Regions from separate parts of the Homo sapiens genome. Here regions 2, 3 and 4 are each reported to be linked to region 1. Evidence: microRNA targets listed by miRTarBase, many of them from high-throughput screens and not tested one by one. Region 1 holds a microRNA gene; each other region holds the end of a gene's coding sequence.

Region 1 (4,000 bases):
CACTTTTTTTTTGAGATGGAGTTTCGCTCTTGTCGCCCAGGCTAGGGTGCAATGACGCGATCTCGGCTCACTGCAACCTCTGCCTCCCAGATTCAAGTGATTCACCTGCTTCAGCCTCCCAAGTAGCTGGGATTACAGGTGGCTGCCACCACGCCTGGCTAATTTTTTTGTATTTTAGTAGAGACGGGGTTTCACCATGTTGGCCAGGCTGGTCTTGAACTCCTGACCTCAGGTGATCCGCCCACCTCGGCCTCCCAAGGTGCTGGGATTATAGACATGAGCCACTGCTCCTGGCCCATATTTTTATATCACATTTTAGGTGCCACAGATGTGTCTGCTTGCAGATGACAGTGATTATTCTGTCTGCTACTAGATCTTGTTATTGATTGCTTTAATAAAGGAGCAGATAGGTTACAGATAATATTTCACAGCAATTTTTGTAATCACATTCTTAGCCAAAGTTTACTATGTTGGTTTCCTTTTCATCCTGTATATTTTATTGTATTCCATTTAAAAGCATTATTCTGGGAAGGGGCCCATAGATTTCACCAGATGGTTGAAGAGATCCATGGCACAAAATGGTGGAAGAACCCATTAGACCTGGGTTTGAGTCCTCATGCTGCCCTGCACCTGCTGTGTGAGTGTGAGCAGAGTGTGAGCAGCCCATTCCGCCTCTGGATTTCTTATTCATGATCCAGCCAGAGAGGGGCTGTCTCCCCCACAGGGTTGCCGTGGGAGGCCTGCAGTGGGAGTCGATGCCACTTTGTTGTGGTGCCTGTCTGTTGGGTGTTATTAGGTCTTCTGGGCAGGACGTGACACTGGGTGCTCCAGCGTGCCCTGAACGTGTTCCCACCGCCTCCTGCACACCCCAGTCTGTCTGGGCATCCATCCCACTGGGTTGATTGTCTGCCGGCTCAATGGCCGTGACACTCATTATGGGCAGGACTGTGTCCGTCCTAATAAATAATGGTACAGAATTGTAGCTGATGCCTCTGAGCTCACACTCTTTGCCAGCTTCACAACAGCTCCACAAGGTAGGTGCCGTTTTCAGACTTATTTTGGAAATGTTAAACGTTATAACAGGTGAGTGAGGCTCAGAGACAAGAAGTCACTGGCTCAAGGCCACTGGTGAGTGGCCACACCAAGATCGCCTGGGTCTGTCCAACTTTAGGTCTACACTCCTGACCCCTGCACTCCACGATGATTGCATTCCTGAGCCTGGCCCAGGTGGGCAGCCAGTGAATAGTTAGCTGGTGCAAAAGTAATTGCGGTCTTTGGTATTACTTTCAGTGGCAAAAACTGCATTACTTTTGCACCAGCCTACTAGAACGCTGAGTTCAGTGCCTTAAGCGGTGTTTCACAGAGAGGGAGCAAGGGGCAGCGCTTGTTAAAATGCAAATTCCCTCAGCTCCACGTTAAAATGCAAATTCCCTCAGCTCCACCTTGCCTCTTCCAAATCAGAATATTTGAGGGCAGGCCCCAGGAAATCTGCCTTTTAAAGTTTTGGGCTATTCAGAAGCACACCAAAGTTTAACCACTACCCTAAAGGGAAGGAATAACAGTCAGGTAGTAACAAAGCTCTGTTCTGAGTGCTTTATGTGAGTTTATTTATTGTGAGACAGAGTCTTGCTGTGTCACCCAGGCTGGAGTGCAGTGGCGCCATCTTGGCTCACTGCAACCTCCTCCTCCTGGGTTCAAGCAATTCTTGTGCTTCAGCCTCCCAAGTAGCTGGGATTACAGGCATTCACCACCACGCCTGGCTAATTTCTGTATTTTTGGCAGAGACGGGGTTTCACCATGTTGGCCATGCTGGTCTTGAACTCCTGACCCCAGGTGATCCGCCCACCTTGGCCTCCCAAAGTGCTGGGATTACAGGCATGAGCCACTGCAAGTTTATTTATTTAGTCTTCACAAGTGTTAATGGCCTCCCCATTTCACAGATGAGGAAAGTGAGGCACAAAGTAGTTAGATAACACCTCCCCACTGACCCCCAACCCAGGGCTGCATTGCTAGGAATCAGCCAGGTGTGGAGGATTCCTGCCCCTATGCTCAGTCCCCTACCTCTGACAGCTTCTGGACAGAGGAGTAGAGACGGGATCCCATGGTGGGTGGGGGTGAGGGCTCAGGAAGCACTGGTCCCTACAAGATCACGCTGGCCCTTTCCTGTTTGCCTTGTTTACCAGGCAGGGGCCCTCTGTGTTTCTGGGCAGGAAGTCCTGAGCAGGGGCTGTGCCAGGTGTCAGGGGCAAGACTGGGAGATGGTCCAGGAGTCTGAGCCGGGCACTACTCTGAGCAGCTGTCTGACCTGGGGCACATAGCTTCCCCATCTGTGTATGGGGTGGGGTCGAGATTTGGAAGAGGTAGTTAAGAGCTTGGGTTCCGGCATCAGATAGACCTGAGTTCCAGATCAAACTCAGCCACTTATCATCTGTGTGATCTCCAACAAAGCACTTCACCTCTCTAAGCCTCAGTTTCCCCTTCTGTAAAACGTGGCTAATAATAATAGTGCCTACCCTCCAAGCCTGTCATGAGGGTCAAAATATATTGTTGGCTGTCCGTCTTCTTGGGTTCTGCATGCGGGGATTCAGCCGACAGTGGATCAAAAATATTCGGGAAAAAATGGGTGGTTGCATCTGTACTGAACATGAACAGAGCTTTTTTGTCCTGTGATTGTTCTCTAAACAATACAGTGTAACAACTACCTACATAGCATTTAGATTGTATTAGGTAGTATAATTGATCTAGCACTGATTTAAAGTATATGGGAGGATACGTGTAGGTTTTATGCAAATATTACATCATTTTATATAAGGGACTTGATGTATACTGGTATTCGAGGGATATTCTGTAATCAGTCCCTTATGATACCGAGGGGCGACTGTATATAAAACTGCCAGCCAGGTGCAGTAGCTCATGCCTATAATCCTAGCACTTTGGGAGGCTGAGGTGGGAGGATTAAACTCAGACTGGCCTGGGCAACATAGTGAGACCCCGTCTCCACAAAAATAAAAAATTAACTGGGCATGGTGGCACTTGCCTGTAGTCCCAGCTACTTGGCAGGCTGGGGCAGACAGATCATTTGAGACCAGGAGTTTCAAGGCTGCAGTGAACAGTGATCACTCCACTGCACTCCAGCCTTTGAGACAGAAGGAGACCCTGTCTCTTTAAAAAAAAAAAAAAAAACTGCCAGGCATGCACAAGCCTCTCTGCTAGTCCTTACGTGGCAACAGACAGGATGCTGGATGATTCCCTATGCATGAGTGTGCACTTCTTTTTCTTTTCAATCAACTATTTGTTTTCCCGAATTGTACATTTTTCTCTTACCAAAGGCTGGCCACCTGGGTCCTCCCACAGTCCCTACTGAGAAAAGTCCCAGAACCAAAACTGGCTTCCACCTCGGCTCACTGTATTTGTGCTTTGTGAGTTTGCCCAGGTTGCACTGAGGGCAGGTGCTGCTGATAGTGTCTTTTTTTTTTTTTTTTTTTTTTTTTTGAGATGGAGTTTCGCTGTTGTCACCCAGGCTGGAGTACAATGGCACAATCTCAGCTCACTGCAACCTCCGCCTCCCGGGTTCAAGCAGTTCTCCTGCCTCAGGCTCTCGAGTAGCTGGGACTACAGGCGCCCGCCACCATGCGCGGCTAATTTTTGTATTTTTAGTAGAGATGGGGTATCACCATGTTGGCCAGGCTGGTCTCGAACTCCTGACCTCAGGTGATCCTCCTGCCTTGGCCTCCCAAAGTGCTGGGATTATAGGCGTGAACCACTGCTCCTGGCTGATAGTGTCTTTTCGTGATATAGACCAGGGGGTTGGCAAACTATGCCCACGGGACAAATCTAGCTGACCGCCTGTTTTCGTAACTAGTCTTATGGAAACGCAGCCACTTGCCTTCATGTATGTGTCATCTTGGTTGTTTGCATTACAGTTGCAAACTCGCAGTGGAGCTCTTGTGGCCCACAGAGCCAAAAACATGGGTTTTATGACTTCACAGAAGCTTGCCTA
Region 2 (4,144 bases), not on the chromosome of region 1:
GTACAAGATAAGAATTGCCCACTTTTACCACTTTTATTCAACATGATACTGGAAGTCCTGGTCAGAGCAACTAGGCAAAGAAAGAATAAAAGGGCATCCAAATTGTAAAGGAAGAAGTCAAGTTAACCTTGTTTGAAGAGGACATGATCTTATTACTTAGAAAGACCTAAAAACTCCACCAAAAAACTGATAGAACATAAAACAAATTCAGTAAAGTTGCAGGTTACAAAATCAACATACAAAAATCAGTAGCATTTATATGTGCCAACAGTGAACAATCTGAAAAATCAAGAAAGTAATCCCATTTACAATAGCTGCAAAAAATATAAAATACCTAGGAATCAATCTAACCAAAGAAATAAAAGTTCTGTACAAGGAAATAAAATTCTGATGAAAGAAACAGAAGAGGACACCAAAAAGTGGAAATATATTCCATGCTCATGGATTGGAAGAATAATATTGTTAAAATGACAATACTACTACAAACTACTTACAGATTCAATGCAATCCCTATCAAAATACCGATGACATTCTTCACAAAAAGAGAAAAAAAAAAAACAAACCTAACATTTATATAGAACCACAAAAGACCCTGAATAGGCAAAGCAATCCTGAGCATAAAGAACAAAGCTGGGTTGGGCATAGTGGCTTATACCTGTAATCTCAGCACTTTGGGAGGCCAAAATGGGAGAACTGCATGAGGCCAGGAGTTCGAGCCTGCAGTGAGCTATGAGTGCACCACTGCACTCCAGCCTGGGCAACAGAGTGAGACCCTTCACACACACACACACACACACACACACACACACACACAAAACAGAGTGAGACCCTTCACACACACACACACACCACACACACAAACATACCCTGAAACACAAAAACCCCCAAACCAAAAAACAAAGCTGGAGGGATCACAATACCGGACTTCAAAACTTATTACAAAAGCATAGTAACCAAAACAGCGTGGTACTGGCATAAAAGCAGACACATAGACCAGTGGAACAGAATAGAGAACCCAGTTATAAATTCATGCATTTATAACCAACTCATCTTTGACAAAAGCACCAAAAACTTAGAATGGGAAAAGTCCAGTCTTTTCAAAAAAAATGGTGCTGAGAAAACAGCATAACTATGCAGAAGAATGAAACTAGACCCCCATCTCTCACTATACAAAAATATCAAATCAAAATGGATTAAAGAGTTGAACCTAACACCTGAAACTGTGAAACTCCTAGGAGAAAGCATTGGGCAAATACTTTGAGATGTTGGTCTGGGCAAAGATTTCTTGTATAAGACCTCAGAAGCACAGGCAACCAAAGCAAAAATAGACAATTGGGATTACATCAAGCTAAAAAGTTTCTGTACAGCAAAGGAAACAGTCAACAAAGTGAATAGACAATCCACAGAATGGGAGAATGGGAGAAAATATTTGCAAACTATTCACCTGATAAGGGATCAATAATAAGAATACATAAGGAGCTTAAACAACTCAATAGTAAAAAAAAAATCCAATTTAGTAATGGGCAAAAAATTTGAACAGACATTTCTCAAAAGGAGACATACGAATTGCCAACAGGTGTAAGAAAAAATGTTCAGTATCACTAATCATCAGAGACATGCAAATCAATATCATAATGTGATATCATCTCACCCCAGTTAAAATGGCTTGAATCAAAAAGACAGGCACTAACAGATGCTGGAAAGGATGTGGAGAAAGGGGAATCCTCATACACTGTTGGTGGGAATGTGAATTAGTATAGCCACTACGGAGAACAGTATGGAGGTTTGTCAAAAAACTGAAAATAGAACTACCATGTGCTCCAGCAATTCTACCACTAGGTACATATCCAAAAGAAAGGCAGCATGGTGCTCAATAAGTATTTATTGATAAATTAGCCTGAAGCAATGTGGGATAGCCATTACCTAGATCAGAAAGGTGTGGTTTTTATGGATTACACTGTGGTAAAATTCCTTTTATATATATTTTTGAGGAGAGAGGGTGGAAATGTTAACAAAAGCGGGAACTTTTGGAATACAAAAATTAGGATCTTATAGTACTTTCATAGCAACATTAATGAAGCATAAGGTAAATGCTTAGTAAATGATCATTCGTAGGCTTTTTCTCATCCTATAAAATTGCTCAGCCTTTTTGGGGAGCCACCTGTTGTTCTTGAATCAGAGCTGGTGTGGAGTCAACCTAGGAGTCAGCATCTTAGAAGAGATTAGGAGCATGCTACTTCTCTGAGCCCCCAAATTAGTAGATGGATAATCTTAGGAAAATTGGTTGTTTAGTTCCTTCTGGTGAGTATTTTTGGATGCTTGAAAAGAATCGTAGCCAACCCATCTCTTTGGCAGTTAAACAAGCATATATGACTAAGCAGATTGTGTATTTACATAGGACACGTATTACATTTCAGTTACAAACACCAGGGAGTGATAAATATCATCAAGGTGTCCTAAGTGGGGAGGGAAGAATAGAGTCGGAATTCTTACGAGGTGCACAATTTTAGGGATCAGCAAAGAATGTTGGCATCCTGGAATTTAGCATCATTATTAAAAGAAAACTTTGTTGCTTATTACAAGCTTATTACTGGACATACCATGTTTCCTTCTGGTTGTACATTGCGTTATATATATTATAAATAGGGTGTTGAGTCCAATCTCTCTCCTTCACTGCAAGACCCTGTTGCAGTGGTCCCTATACACAAATATATGTGTATATAGGTGTTGTTATCCCACATCCTTCAGCCAGTTAAGGGCAGGGCTGACTCTGAGGCATTGTGGGAATAACAACACTGCCTATATACACAAATACGTGTGTATATATGTGTGTGTATATATAGGTGTGTGTGTATATATATATGTATATATACACACACACACACACACACACACACACACACACACACACACATATATTTTGCCCATTTCTTAACAGAAATTACTATTAGGGGAAAAATGACCAGTTTTCACTTGAGGGAAATGAAAATTGAGATAGTTTTGCCCCAAAGTCTGGTCTTGAAAACACACATACACTCACCATTTGATTCGTTCTTTAATACCCACACACAAATAATACAATTAGACAACATTCTCTGTGTTTTAACTTACTCATTAGAGACTTATATTTGAATGGAACACATTCATTATTCTTGTTTAAAGTATAATTTATTTGTTGTGACAAAAATGTTTTTATAACATAGTTTTTTTCTATATTGGCTTCTCAGACATGGTTCGTTCCTGTTCTCTTGCCCTTCAAAATCTACTGGTGTGGACAAATGGGAAGCTGCCAGCAGCCTCAGAGCTATTTCTCCTTTCTCCTTTCTTTCTTGAGTCACATGAGTCACAGAAGTTCCTTGTAACCTGAATGGGTTTGGTTAGAAATCTGAGATCATCTTGAAAGTAAGGAAGGATTCTTCCCACAGAAACTCAGAGGTTGCAGGGGAATCATTTGGCAGTGAACAAAAGTTGAGATTGGCTGTGGAATTGGCTGCCAACCTGTTCAACCAATAGGGAGAACCTAGGTGACTAAGTTCCGGCCAGTTCTAAATATTTTCAAAAAGTGTAATATGTGTCCTGAAAGATCCAGATGAACATCTATGTGACCCAAGCCTGCCAATGAGTGCCTCCAGATCTTTGTTTTGGTCTGAAGCCGTGGCAGCAAAGTTGCACATTTGAGAATGTAAAGCCTTCATTTACACACATTCGGTTCCCAGCACTAGCTTGGAACTGAATGTAGGAGGATGCAGTGGAGGCAGAAACAATTGTTTCCCTGGCTTCCCTTTAGAAGAGAAGTGTGCTGGTGAGAAAAGCAAGCAGGATATAAATGGCCTCTGTGATGGGGCTGCTGAAGACTTGGTTGGCCAAGCCTTCGAGTCTGATACTCTTGGGTGTAATCATGAAGAAAGGCTTGAAGGCTGAGCTCTGGGGAATCTTGGCAGCTAAGGCTAAGGTTGACACTGGAAAGGTGGTTGAGGGTGCGGTTGGCACTGGAAAATGGCATCGGAACCTCCGTTGGGTGGTGGGTGGGCACTCGAGAAAGGAGGGTAATCTGATGGAATGCTAGAGCCAGATTCATGAGCAAAATTCAATCAACCCTTCTCCAGTGCCAAGTGTTTTCAGAGGAGGGGAAAAGCTGGGGGTT
Region 3 (4,144 bases), not on the chromosome of region 1:
TCTTAGGTTCAATGCCTGGAGCCTGTGAATTAAACTGACAAAAGGCATTTTAACAGGAGAAAACAAGTTTATGCATGCAAGGCATATACACTTGGGAGAACTCAGTGATGAGTAACTGAAAGGGATAGTTAAAATCGGTGGCTTATAATCATCTTGATAAGCAAAGGGGAGGGGGAGAAGACATTTATGTAAACACAATGACTTTTTACAAAGATACATGAGTTTTCAGGTGAACAAACAGGAGATAAAAAAGTACGTGATAATGTTTATCTATACAGGTATAAATGGTCCTTAAATTTCCTTCGGGGCCATACAACACTTCTGGAGAAGGGATTTGGGGTAGGATTACTTGTGTTCTAGAAGTAGATCAAACCTGAAGAGGAATTTATGGCAGCCTTATTTCCTAGAAGTTACTGCTTGTAGTCAGATAAGCAAAGGTCTGAGAAGACTTTTTTTTCCCCTGCATATGGTATGTTAAATCTCAAATGTCTTTGGCTTAAAATAATCTTTATACCAACTCTGGAGTTCTGAGTTGGTCCCCACACATATATAATTCGCATTAAATAAAAAGGGAATGCATGAGTCTGTACTGATTTGAGTACATAAATTAATAAGGAAGAAAAGAAAGCTCTGCCCAACAGCAGAAGGCCAAGTAAGAAATGGAAAGAATGATAAAATGTAGAAATTATTTTATGGCAACTGTCACTGTAATAATTATTTTAGGCGAGAATCATCCATGGATGCTAAAATTAGTAGGTGAAAGTATGAAAGTAGAAGGAAATTTCCATAGTTTCAAAGTATCTATCTATCAGATATTCATTAAGTACAAGGAAAACTACTAGAGAGTTACCGGCACCAACTCTCCTTACAATAAAAAAATCCATGTATAAGTTTTGCCTCCCAAAAAACTTAGATACTAATAACTTACTGTTGACCAAAAGCCTTACCCATAGCATAATCAATTAACACGTATTTTGTATGTTATAAATACTGTATTTGTGCAATAAAGTAAGCTTGAGAAAAGACAACAATTGAACTCAACACAATAGCAACAGGAGGTGGCTATGAAATTATTACAGTTGTACAGTATGTACTACAGTTAATTTTATGCAGTTATGATTTATTACTGCAGCTTTACTTTTATTTACATTTCTCTCAACTGCAAATGCAGTTAAAGTTTATATCAGGTATCAACATCATGTGCCTCCTGATATGATGTACTGAGAAGGGTGCAATGACATCTGTAGCACTGCTGCCCCAAAAGCATCACCTGAATCTATTCTTGAAGACATTTAAGACAAACCAAAGTTGAGAGACATTTTACAAGATAAAAGTGGCTTGTGTTCTTCTTATATACTGTCATAAACAAACAAACAAACAAACAAACAAGAAATACAGGTTGTTCTAAACTAAAAGAGACTAAAGAGATGGGGCAAGCGAATGTATTTCATGACCTGGGAGTACAAAGGAAATTATTGGGATAAATAGCAAAATCTGAATAAGGTCTATAGATTAAATAGTTCACTTAAGTGTTAATTTCCTTAGTTTGCCAATGGTAATATTGTTATGCAAAAGAACATCGTGATTTTAGGAAATACACAATGAAATATTTAAAACATCATGTCTTCAACTGACACACAAATATGAAAACATCATGTGAAGAACATCATGTCTTCATCATGTCTTCAACGGACACACAGATAGTTCGGGGACAAAAATTAAACATACATATGCATATATGTAGAGGGAGAAAGAGATAGAGCAAATGTGGTAAGTGGTTAACATTTAGGTAATCTGGGTAAAGGGCATATAAGAATTCTTTGTCAAATTATTGCAACTTTTCCATAAATATGAAATTATGTCAAAACAAAAAGAAAAGAGAGAACAAAAAAACCAACCAAAACCTTACAAAACAGACAAAATTTAGTTGTAATAGCAAATCTTGGGATCCAAATGCAATGCTTGTAAGCAACCCCTGTTCAGGTCTGTCTCCTCCAGAGGGGTGGGCCTGGTTACCTGCTTCATTCTCTCTCTTCCCTTCTCCTCCCTAACTGGCTCCTGTGGAAGGTCCCTCCAAGGTTGGAAAGAGAGGGAGGAGGTTAGAGGAAAGGGGTTTAATCCATACGTGACTGACAGAGCTGTAATCTGCAATTGGTGCCTTCTGGTAAGGCAGATTCTAAAGTGGCTTCTTTCTGTCAATGAGACGTTGGATATTTTTGGAGCTCCTGTTCGGTACCCACTGCATTTCTTGGTGTGAATAATGCCTCAGCTAGCTTTTTACTGCAGAGTACACCTCCAGAGATGGTCAGTTTTATGACTCAACTTGGCTAGGTTGTAGCACCCAGTAACTCAATCAAATACTAATCTTAGGTGTTGTGGTGAAGGAATTGTGTACATGCAACCAATATTTACAATTCATTGACTTTATGTAAAGGAGACTGCTTTAGATAATCTAGGTGAAACTGATCCCATCAGTCGCTTTAACAACAGTTGAAATTTTCACAATCGTAATCTGGTTAGGTAAATGGATGCCTTTTATTTTAGGAAAGACATACTGAAGTATTTAGGTGTATGAACAAAACTGAGGTTTCCATGATGAAGAAGAAATTCCACTTGTGGACTTCAGGGACAGCTCCTGCATGTTTCCAGCCTGCACTTCCTGATAGCCTACCCTACAAATTTAGCACTTAACCATCTGGGGCCCAAAATTATGTAAACCAATTATTTGCAATAAATCTCTATCTATCTATCTATCTATCTATCTATCTATCTATCTATCATCTATCTATCTATCTATCATCTATCTATCTATCATCTATATATCTGTCTATCTGCCTTTCTAGCTAGCTAGATACCTAGCTGTCAGGTTGGAGCAAAAGTAATTGCGGTTTTTGCTGCAATTAAAGGTTATGGCAAAAACCACAATTACTTTTGCACCAACCTAATAGCTATCTATCTAGGGCTAGGGCTATCTATCTAGGGCTAGGGCTATCGATCTAGGGCTGTTAAAAGTGTATTCAACCCAAGGTATCTAATACACATAGTTTATAATGGCATGTGAGAAATAAACTCCTTCCTTAAAAGATTAAATATTACTTCTTTTTCCAAAACCTAAATTGTTTCATCAATTTCCACTAGAAATGTATCTTCAATAAGCAGGCTGGGCACAGTAGCTCATGCCTATAATCCCAGCACTTTCGACGGCCAAGTTGGGAGGACTGCCTGAGCTCAAGAGTTCGAGACCAGCTGGGGCAATATAGTGAGACTCTGTCTCTATTTAATAAATAAAAAGGATAATTAAAAAAATAATAAGCATAATGGTGTAGACCTGGTAAATCTTTTGACAGCAACGTTTATAACCCACATGCCATGTATTTCACTACATTCATAAAGGGGCTTGGGGATTTATCCAGAATGACATACCATTCATTTCAAAATAACATACATCTTTTCTCTAGACAGCTAAGAATATTTATAGTTGTTAAAGCAAAAAGAAATTCTTGGTAACAAGTTCTTGGTGTATGGATTGCTTTGGCTTTGATGGAAATATCTACTTTCTCCAAAGATTGGTCCCTGGGCCTCAAAGCATTTACCCCAAGAAATAACTGCTATGACTTAGGTCTTCAAGGCAGCTTCCAGTGCTCGAGCTTTCTCTGTGATGTTCTTCTGAAAAGGCATCATAAAATCGTCGAAGTCCACCTCATGTGTAAACCTCTCTCGCCGTAGTTCCCTCTTCCTGATCAGCTCTGCTGTTGTGGCTTCAGGACTCCAAATCTTAAAAAGAAAAATAGCCATACCCCAGCAGGTATGAGTATGACAGCCAGTAAATATGCTAATATCCAGACAATTTTCAATACACAGTTTTAACTTAAAAATTTGTTTATAGTTTTAACTTAAAACTATTAAATTTACTTTTAGATGTGTTTTAACTTCTTCCCCCCCTCTCATATGACACTAGTGGTTGCACGAGCATCACTGTTTTTGATGATGACTGTCTAGACAAATAATGTCGGAAATATTATTCAGTTACTTCTCTGGCCAGTTATGCTCAGACCAGCTGCTGTGCGTTTTTTAGGATGCCAAAACAGGGAAGCAAAGGAATTAGAAGATCATCTAGGTTTACTACCTATATGTCTTATGTAGA
Region 4 (4,144 bases), not on the chromosome of region 1:
TCAATTCAAACTTTTATCAGACAGCATCATGTTGTCCCAAGAGTTATTGTTTAGAAAACGAAGAGGCAGTAAGAAAAATTGCCAGCCAAGTGTCTGATGAGATCCTTGAAAGCTTGCCTCCAGAAGTCCTAAGCATCGAAGGAGCAGCCATTTGCTATTACAAAGATGATGTCTTCATTATAGGAGGCTGGAAAAACAGTGATGATATTGATAAACAGTATCGGAAAGAAGCCTACCGATATTGTGCGGAGAGGAAGAGGTGGATGCTTCTTCCTCCTATGCCACAACCTCGTTGTAGAGCCACTGCTTGTCACGTGAGGATCCCATACCGGTACTTGCATGGCACACAGAGATACCCTATGCCTCAAAACCTGATGTGGCAGAAGGACCGCATCAGACAGATGCAAGAGATACATCGTCACGCCCTGAACATGAGGCGAGTGCCAAGCTCTCAGATTGAATGCTAGGTTCTCTCAAGCGTGCCGATTAAAACTGTTACACCCGTTTCGTGAAGCTGAAGATACCCAGGCTGTTATTTAAAAAAGTATGTCGATAACTTATTTTCTACATGAACTGATTATTACCCCATATAAAGGAAATAGAGTTAAAAACTAAAGAATGGGAGACTCAGTTCAATACATGGTCATTTTGTTAGCTTGCAATTTTTGTCTTTGGTTTGTTTGTTTGTGCTAGCTAAATAAGATCTTATTAAGGACAAGTGGAAAAATCAGGTGTAGTTGCTTAGCTGTTTTCCTGCCAACGAGTTATGACTCCTTTGTCTTGAGGACTTACGTTTTGAACATGCTTTAAGCACCAATTTTATTTGCACATTTACTTTGATATTCTTTTTCATTTTTTATTAAATGATTGGTTTTGGCAAGATCTGACTTCTGCATTGAGCCCTCATCTGCAGGAGGCATGTGCAATAGTGAGACTGAAATTTGAATGAAAACACTCAATATTTCAGCAAGATAATTTGAGAATGTTTGCATTGATATTTTCTTATGTTTATCTAGAAATGCCAGTTTCCTTCCTAGAAGATGTGACTGATGAGAAATTTTTTACTGGCTCATGCATTTTTTGAATATTTTTCATTAGCAGCTGTTTATAGACTTTAAGCCTTCAATCTGAGGTGACGGTAGTTGGCAAAAGTATAGATCTTTAGCTAATTGACTAAATACAGAGCAAGTTACATGTGTGAACTTTGTTTCTCTAAGAAGAAAAGTATTAGTGTAGACTGGGAAATCAAAGGCATTTAAAATTTTTTCAACATTTTTTTCAGGAGTTGCAGGATTATTTGAGGATATGTTAATGAGTGTAAATAATGCCTATGACAATCGACACTCAATGCCTTCCATTTTAATTTTTGCTCTAATGCATATTATATAGAATCTTCATTATTCCTTTTCTCTTTTTTTTTTTTTTTTTGCTCATGTTGCCCAGGCTGGAGTGCAGTGGTGCAATCTCGGCTCACTGCAACCTCTGCCTGCCAGGTTCGAGTGATTCTCTTGCCTCAGCATCCCGAGTAGCTGGGATTACAGGTACCCACCATCACGCCTGGCTAATTTTTGTGCTTTTAGTAGAGACAGGGTTTCACCATGTTGACCAGGCTGGTCTTGAACTCCTGACCTCAGGTGATACGCCCGCCTCAGCCTCCCAAAGTGCTGGGATTACAGGCATGAGCCACCGTGCCCAGTCCATTATTCTTTTCTACAAGAAACTGTTTTTTTCCAAAATGGGAAGGAAGTCACAATTTAGAGAAATGTTGCTAAAGAGAAGCCTTATTATTTCTGATTGTTATATTTTATCCAGTTGCCCCACACTTTCAAACTTTGCCTGAGCCTAGGATACCAAATTTGGGTACATAATTTTGGCTTTTAAAGGTTTATGGGCTGGGCACGGTGGCTCATGACTGTAATCCCAACACTTTGGAGGAGGCTGAGGTGGGCAGATTTTGAGCCCAAGAGTTCAAGACCAGCCTGGGAAACATAGCAAGATCCTGTCTCTACAAAAAGTAGAAAAATTAGCTGAGTGTGGTAGCTGGCACGTGCCTGTAGTCCTTCCTACTTGAAGCCAAGGTGGGAGGATCACCAGAGCCTGGGAAGGTTGAGGCTGAAATGAGCTGTGATCATGCCACTCTACCTTGGGTGACAGAGAGACGGTGTCTCAAATAAAAATTAAAAAGATCACTGAAGCTATCTTTTATTTAGTTTTATACGTTATTCGAATTATCTTATGTCTCCTGAGCTTTATAAAAGTTAGCACTCAAATTGACTTTTTTTTTTTTTTGGGCCAGGGGATGGGGTCCCACTTTGTCACCCAGGTTGGAGTACAGTGGTATGATCTCGGCTCACTACAACCTCCACCTCCTGGATGCAAGCCATCCTGCCACCTCAGCATACGGAGTAGCTGGGACTATGGGCACGCGCCACCACGCCCAGCTAATTTTTTTTTTGTATTTTTGGTAGAGATGGGGTTTCTCCATGTTGCCGAGGCTGGTCTCCAACTCCTGGGCTCAGGAGATCCACCCGTATCAGCCTCCCAGGGTGCTAGGATTAGGTGTGAGCCACCACGCCCGGCCTCAAAATAACTTTTTTTTTTTTTTTTGAAACAGTCACGCTTTGTCGCCCTGGCTGGAGTGCAGTTGCGCAGTCTCAGCTCACTGCAACCTCCACCTCCCGGGTTCATGTGATTCTCCTGCCTCAGCCTGCTGAGTAGCTGGGATTGCAGGTGTGTACCACCACGCCCGGCTAATTTTTGTATTTTTAATAGAGATGGGGTTTCACCATGTTGGTTAGGCTGGTCTCGAACTCCTGACCTCGTGATCCGCCCACCTCAGCCTCTCAAAGCGCTGGGATTACAGGCATGAGCCACCATGCCCAGCCCTCAAATTTACTCTTAATGCTCAGTTAATATAAAGGATTCCTAACAGTTTACAATGTGGTTTTCTTGTTTTTGTTGTTGTTTTGGTTTTTTAAGATGTGAGGTCTCACCTTATTGGCCAGGCTGGTCTCAAGCTCCTTTCCTCAAGCAATCCTCCCACCTTGGCCTCCCAAAGAGCCACCTGTCCAATGATTTATCCTGTTTCTTAAGAACTGTCTTTACCTTCTTAGACATTTTGTCATACCATTCTAGAAGTCAAATTCCAAGTGCAGTGATTTTTTTTTTCCCTAGTCCATTATAGTTAATCTTCTTGTTAGTGATCAAATACCAAAAGAGAAAAGCACAACCAGAAATTTTGGCTATTTGCTGCAAGTTGTAGGTCTTGGGCTCTATACTAAGAACTTGAAATTTTTAAATTAGTATCCCTGCCTAGGTGAAAAGTTTTTAATAAATGTGTTGAAAATCAACTTTAAATCCATTTAATTTAGACTGGAGTGGGCGTGAGAAACTGCAAGTCTATTTCTACATATAAGGATATATTATTATATTGTCCCATCCCACCACTACCTTTTTCTCAATTTCTATTTCTTTGTAGTTATTTTAGTAAAAGCCATTTGGATTCTGAGAAGCACTAATTCTTAGCTGTGATAGGTCTATGCAAGTAAGACAGAATCATTAAATGAAGCTCACTAAATGAAGTTCTCATTTCTCTCCAACAGACTGTGCTAGCAAACTTCGTTTTCTTGATTGTATTTAAATAATTTAGTATCTCACTACGATAATAGTTTTTAACTGGAAGGGTGTGATGTGTTTTTTGTTTTTTGTTCTCAGAGTTGTCTTCTGAGATAATTATTACCAAGTCATTTGTGGGGTTGTGTTTTTTTCACATCATGTGACAGAAATTATAACTCATAAGATTTAGGCATAATCTGGTTTTAAAACCTTGATTGAAACTGTTGTTTTTTAACTTAGCAGGCAGCCTAGGCCATGGCTGAAAAGAAGGGGTAAGTCCTTCATTGCATGATGATGTGTGCAGGTTTTCCTGATTTTCTAATTTTTATTTTTGAATTCACATGTGTAATTTCACATCAATAACTTGTGTTTCTGAAATATCCTAACTAACTTGTTAATAAGGAAAGAAACCAGATTTGCTTAAATCTGTTCAAGGCTGACATTCTGAAATTCTAAACTGGAAATAACTTCCCAGAGTATTTGGAAAGGTTCTAAGTACAAGGATCAGGCCTAAAATAGCTCCTTGGGA

Evidence for each region. Region 1 holds the annotated microRNA hsa-miR-548ap-5p (AAAAGUAAUUGCGGUCUUU, at 1,258-1,276, shown strand). A microRNA usually pairs through its seed, bases 2 to 8, with sites in the 3' UTR of a target mRNA and lowers its output. Matches are read on the target gene's strand: a 7mer-m8 pairs with bases 2 to 8, a 7mer-A1 pairs with bases 2 to 7 and ends in A, and an 8mer does both.
Region 2: miRTarBase lists PLET1 as a target of hsa-miR-548ap-5p. Seed matches in the 3' UTR shown: 7mer-m8 at 3,400-3,406 and 7mer-A1 at 3,158-3,164.
Region 3: the mRNA of ANKEF1 is a reported target of hsa-miR-548ap-5p. Seed matches in the 3' UTR shown: 7mer-m8 at 2,876-2,882 and 8mer at 1,005-1,012.
Region 4: miRTarBase lists KLHL11 as a target of hsa-miR-548ap-5p. Seed matches in the 3' UTR shown: 7mer-m8 at 832-838.

Annotation. Positions count from the first base shown.
Region 1 is chr22:26,552,553-26,556,552 of GRCh38, reverse strand. MIR548J (microRNA 548j) reads left to right here and starts at 1,230; the gene lies at 1,230-1,341. The region is part of intron 1 of TPST2 (tyrosylprotein sulfotransferase 2); the gene reads left to right. RefSeq lists an enhancer at 1-766.
Region 2 is chr11:112,245,016-112,249,159 of GRCh38, forward strand. It overlaps PLET1 (placenta expressed transcript 1), which reads right to left. Exons shown (of 4, transcript NM_001145024.1): 4 at 3,138-3,959. The coding sequence ends at 3,784. Among named protein-coding and RNA genes, the nearest start is that of PLET1, 14 kb to the right of the region's middle.
Region 3 is chr20:10,055,132-10,059,275 of GRCh38, reverse strand. It overlaps ANKEF1 (ankyrin repeat and EF-hand domain containing 1), which reads right to left. Exons shown (of 11, transcript NM_022096.6): 11 at 973-3,774. The coding sequence ends at 3,616. All of the region lies in intron 3 of SNAP25-AS1 (SNAP25 antisense RNA 1), which reads left to right. Among named protein-coding and RNA genes, the nearest start is that of ANKEF1, 22 kb to the right of the region's middle.
Region 4 is chr17:41,850,063-41,854,206 of GRCh38, reverse strand. KLHL11 (kelch like family member 11) reads left to right here. Exons shown (of 2, transcript NM_018143.3): 2 at 1-4,144. The coding sequence ends at 467. Among named protein-coding and RNA genes, the nearest start is that of KLHL11, 13 kb to the left of the region's middle.